Linked DNA regions of Homo sapiens: region 1 is linked to region 2. Evidence: fine-mapped expression QTL. Tissue or cell type: whole blood. Region 2 holds a variant in brackets; the other region holds the start of a gene. All regions are shown on one strand. Distances are from middle to middle.

Region 1 (2,684 bases), 38 kb after region 2:
TTTACAGGGGGTTAGTCCAGGAAGTACAAGACAATGTCATTAGGCGGATAGAGTTCCATTTAAATTAAAAATAAAATCTATTGTTAGGTTTAAATGAGTCACTGCTTCATTAAGCTATCAATATTAGATAACACATATTGAATGAATGTTTCCCATAGGCCAAGCTCTGTCCCAAGCATTTCACATGTATTTGCATTTCGTGCTCACAAACTGCCTCTGACTGACTGATTTTGATTTTCTTGATTTTATGGATGAGGAGACCGAGAAGCAGAGATGATGAACTTCCCCAAGGTCACACCACTCATAAGTGGGAGAAACAAGCTAAAATTCAGGCCATCTTACTGCAGAATACTCAAAATCAAAATAAGCAAAATTTCATCTCCAGTTCTGGCACCTCACCAAAAACCAAAACACGATTTAAAAATATAAAATTTTAATAACACCACACATAAATTTCAAACTACTTTCCCTAAGTTTCTAGCTGAAGTTTTAAATGAGTGTGTTTTTAATTTATTAGAAAGTGGATTGAAGAGAAAACATTGGAAGATGAAGGAAGGCGTTTCAGTTAAACCCCAAATAACTCTGTGTTACACTGAGCTATGAAACGGCTCCTTCTAGCTCCATTTCTCCTCAGACCTAAGTGCTATTCCTGATTGTCCTTCATTGTCATTTCCAGGGAGAAATGACACCAGCACAGTGGCAGGCCTTCCAATCTGGAGCACGGTCCACACAACTTCCGAATTGGTGTTCAGTGTAAAGTGTATCGGAGTGCGGAAAATGCGCAGGGCATTGCCAACTATAGATGCTCGGAGTAATTCAGTGTATTCAGAGAACACGGTGAAACAAGGAAAACCGGCCTGACTGGGGGGTGAATTCAGCAGGGAGTAAATCTGATCGGCATCAGGTCTGCGGAAAGGAGCTGGTGAGCACGACACCACCCAGGCATTGCCTGGCTCTCTCCGCGGCGGGCTAAGTTAACCGCGGGTCCAGGTGCGGGCCATGGTCTTGGGGAGGGTGCTGGGTGCGCTCGAGCAGGCTAGCGTCGGGAGCCGCCGCTGCTAGTGAGAGGCCGGGGCCACACACGCTCCTCCCCGGTACCTCCTCCAGCATCACCAGGGGAGGAGAGGGTCGGGGCCACAAGGCCGCGCTAGGCGGACCCAGGACACAGCCCGCGCGCAGCCCACCCGCCCGCCGCCTGCCAGAGCTGCTCGGCCCGCAGCCAGGGGGACAGCGGCTGGTCGGAGGCTCGCAGTGCTGTCGGCGAGAAGCAGTCGGGTTTGGAGCGCTTGGGTCGCGTTGGTGCGCGGTGGAACGCGCCCAGGGACCCCAGTTCCCGCGAGCAGCTCCGCGCCGCGCCTGAGTGAGGAGGGGCCCCGGGGGCGAGGCGGGAGTGGGAGGAAGGGCACGGTCGCCGCGCTGGAGGTCGGGACCCCGGAGCGGCGACCGGCCGGGGTGGGCTCGCTGAGTCGCACCCGCTCTGCTGGCCGGTCCTGGGCTCACAGTCCCTGCAGCCCTCGGAAACAGCGCTAGGATCCTTGCGGGGAGAGGGAGAGGATGACGGTATTAGACACCAGTTCTTCCAAACCTTTTCCCGAAAGGAAGCAACCCTAAGAGCTCAGAGCTGGGGGGAGAATCAGGACAGGCAGGGAACACATGGAGTTTTCTTTTCTTTTTTTTCTCTCTCTCTCTCTTTCTTTCGTTCCTTCTTTCTTTCTTTTGAGGCGGAGTCTCATTTTGTCGCCAGGCTGGAGTGCAGAGGCGCGATCTCGACTCACTGCAACCTCTGTCTCCCGGGTTCAAGCAATTCTCCTGCCTCAACTTCCCGAGTAGCTGGGACTGCTGGCGTGCCGTATCACGCTCGGCTAATTTTTTTGAATTTTTAGTAGAGACGGGGTTTCGCTGTGTTCGCCACAATGGTCTCGATCTCCTGACCTCGTGATTCGCCCGCCTCCGCCTCCCAAAATGCTGGGATTACAGGCATGAGCCACCGCGCCCGCCCCGGAGTTTTCTTATCTGTAGATCTCCTACAGGGACAATCTCTCTCTCCGTCTCTCTCTCTCTCTCTCTCTCTCTCTCTCTCTCTCTCTCTCTCTCTCTCTCTCTCTCTCTCTCTCTCTCTCTCTCACACACACACACACCACTACACACCTCTCACTCTGCCTCCTCTCTCTCTCTCCCTCCGCTCTCTCTCTCACACACCCTTCTCCCTCTCTCCCTCTCTCTCACTCTCCCTTTGAGGAGTATTGCGTTTTTGGAGCCCAGTTATGCGTGGCTGCTGTAAGAACAAAACAAAGCACTCTTTGTCCTACCTGGAGCATCCCCCTGCCGGCCAGATAAGATCACAGCTGTGTCACCAAGTCAAGGGAGAGGCTCATTTTTAAAAAATTAAGCAAAATCAGAAAACAGAGAACACTGTCTTCCTCATCATCTCCTGGAGCTTGTAAGAGAAATTTCTGTCACCAAAAACGAAAAGTTCGGGCTTTTATTCATGCCTGTGGTTCTTGGGATTACTGCAGTGGTGATGAGGAAGGAGAGGTGCGTATGGCTCATAAATGGCAGCTTGCCACCTTTAAAAGGCACACGGATTCAGATTTGGGATGTGTTAACAAATCAGGCTTGCACAAATTACTTTTGATCCAAATGAGAATGCTGAGCTGGGAGACTGGTATATGGGTAGGAGCTGG
Region 2 (2,684 bases):
TCCTTGGCCTAGTGTGTGCTCTCTCCTCCTCTTCTTCTGCTTAACCCAGCCTCCCTTTTAGTTTTCTGTTCAGATACCACCACCTCCTCCAAGAGACCTGAATTCTTCTGGTCTGAATTCTTCAGACTACATTATGAGCTCCAGGTAAGGGCTCCTGAGATCTTTGGGCCTCCCCTTCACATTCCATCCCCCTTTACTGTTTTTGTGAGTTAACTTATTGCCTTCTCAGCTGCATGGGATCTAGCCTATCTGTCCACTTTAGGGTGAGCACCTGGCACCTACAACAGTGCTTGGCACATTAAGTGTGCCTAATGTATATTTGTTATATGACTGAATAGATGAGTCATTGAGACACCTACTCTTAAGAACTCATCTGTTCATTTGCATGAAATGTCCAGAAAAGGCAAATCTATAGAGACAAAACGATTAGTGACTGCCAGAGCATGTGAGTGGCAGCTGGGAGTGATTGCTAATGGGCAGGAGAGATCTCTTTAGGGTGTTGAAAATCTTCTAAAATTGGTTTGTGGTGGTGGTTGCACAACCATATGTCTACTAAACATCATTGAGTTATACACTTAAAATGAGAGCATTTGATGGCATGTAAATTATTCTTCAATAGAACTGTTTTGTAAAGGAACTCATCTAGCCTTTGCTGGCTCCTTGGCAACCAGTTCCACAGATTGCTCTGATGGCAGAAAAGCCATCCCAAAAGCTTACATAGCTTAACATTTTTATAATAGCAATAGGGGCCAGACCTCATGTTTCACTGTTTCACACACAACCTTGACTTCTCAGTGGAAAGTATTTTGCTACCTTAGATTCTTCAGGATCTGCAGTCATCAAGTTTCATGGAACCTGATAAGGAGGCTCAGAGTCACATGGCTGAGGGAATTCCAGTACTGAACATTAAAAAAAAAATCTTTGTAGCTAAATTTACTTGGAGACTAGCACAATGTGCATGGGTGTTAGATAAGGCCAGAGAAGTGTCTTGAGTGTGACCAGGCGAGAAATAGGAAGCCAACTTAGAGAGCAGAAGCTGTTCTCTCTAATTTCTGAACC[C/A]CTGCTGCAAAGTTGCTAAACAGTCACATGGTTCCTAGTGGGTGGAAGGTCTCTGATTTCTCTTCTGCAAATGTGGCAAGAATTTAGAGTTCCCCGGCCCAATAAGAGGAACATGTGTGGCCACAGGCTGGCCTTGGGACTCCAGTTATATCCTGGAAGGGAGCTTCTTCTTTGCCTTGGTTTTGTCAAATGACATGTGACAAGAAATGGTTTGCTAAGAGACTGCTGCTGTACTTATAATGTTCCCACAAGCCATGCCAGAGTGCCCAAAGAGAAAAATTCTAGTACCCCTCAAGTCCAAGATTCCTGGAGAGCTCACGGCTTCTGCCCCAAAGTCCTTTGGTCTGATGGAATCTAGGACTACCCAAATGTTGAGAACAGAGTGACAAAGCCAGCAGGGGAGAGAATTCCTGAGCTGTCTCTTAGTGAAATTTGCTCTTTTGCATAGGAATTATTGGTGATGCCTGATTGCCCTATAGTTGTTACATGTGATTTTATAAGATGGGGGGAACAATCCTCTGGAGGGAGTGTGGGACGGTGGACAGATGACTGGACTAGAACACAGAAAACCCAAATTCAAATACTAATTCTACAACAAATCCGCTATGTGAGCTTGGGGAAATCACTTTTCTTCTCTGAGCATCTGATTGCCCATCTGTAAAATAAGGGTTTTTGGTTAGATGAACTTTAAGGTCCTCTTGACTCCGATAATAAGAGTCATAACTATAATCATGAGTGCCAGGTACATCATGTGTAATCCTAAGAGGCAGGCATGCCTATCACCAATTACAAATGAGGAAACTGAAGATATGGCAGACTAACCAAACTCCTCAAGTTCAAACTGCTTAGAAAGAATTGCTTGAACTGACTACCCTAAAATAGATCCTGAACTCTGACTACACAGCAGAATGTGAGGGAATTGTTTCTAATTTCTTGGGCTTGTGGGCACCACAGACATTTCCAAAGGCCACTGGCTACTACAGAAAAGCCTCTAGATTTTCCCCCTATCATTACATTTAGAAAACTTTCAAATACACAGAAAAAATTTTTAAAAATTTTATAGTACCATCCTAATACCTACCTTCTACTAGCTCTTACTGCTTGCTTTCACACATAACTAGTCACCTGCCATCTCACTATCCCTCCGTCAATCTTATGTTTCGAGGAACCTTTAGTCTTGATGAGTTCTAAGAAAGGTGTCTCTCATTAAGCTTTCTCAATTCTTTCTCTCTGGCCACATATTGCTTAATCTTCACAAGTATCAATGAAGCCAGCATGAATGGGCCTTATAGAGGAAGAAACTGAGGCTTACAAAGGTCAGCAACTTTCTCAAGGCCACTGAGCTGGGAAGTGCTGGAACCTACCTGTCTCAGGCAAAAGCCCCTGCTCTTACCCCCATGTTCTGTTGCCCTCTGACACAGCACTTTTCAAAAACATAGGCATTATGCCTTCGTTAGTCAGTCATCTTTTACTTCCACTGAGGGGTTTTTTTTTCCCTAGAACATTAAAATCTTTGAGGAAAAATGAAACAAAATAAAAACGACTCAGGTTTTATTCACTCTGCTATGAGCAGAACTTCATGTATAGTGTCCTAGAAGAGAATGAGTAAATTATGTGGTCCCCCT

The links. PIP is the estimated chance that this variant, and not a neighbour inherited with it, causes the effect.
Region 1: PLA2G7 starts here. The variant in region 2 is fine-mapped to the expression of PLA2G7 in whole blood (TOPMed, PIP above 0.99).

Annotation. Positions count from the first base shown.
Region 1 is chr6:46,733,856-46,736,539 of GRCh38, reverse strand. It overlaps PLA2G7 (phospholipase A2 group VII), which reads left to right and starts at 1,165. Exons shown (of 12, transcript NM_005084.4): 1 at 1,165-1,360.
Region 2 is chr6:46,771,402-46,774,085 of GRCh38, reverse strand. No RefSeq gene overlaps it. Among named protein-coding and RNA genes, the nearest start is that of MEP1A, 21 kb to the left of the region's middle. The variant C/A (reference allele first, on the strand shown) is at 1,060.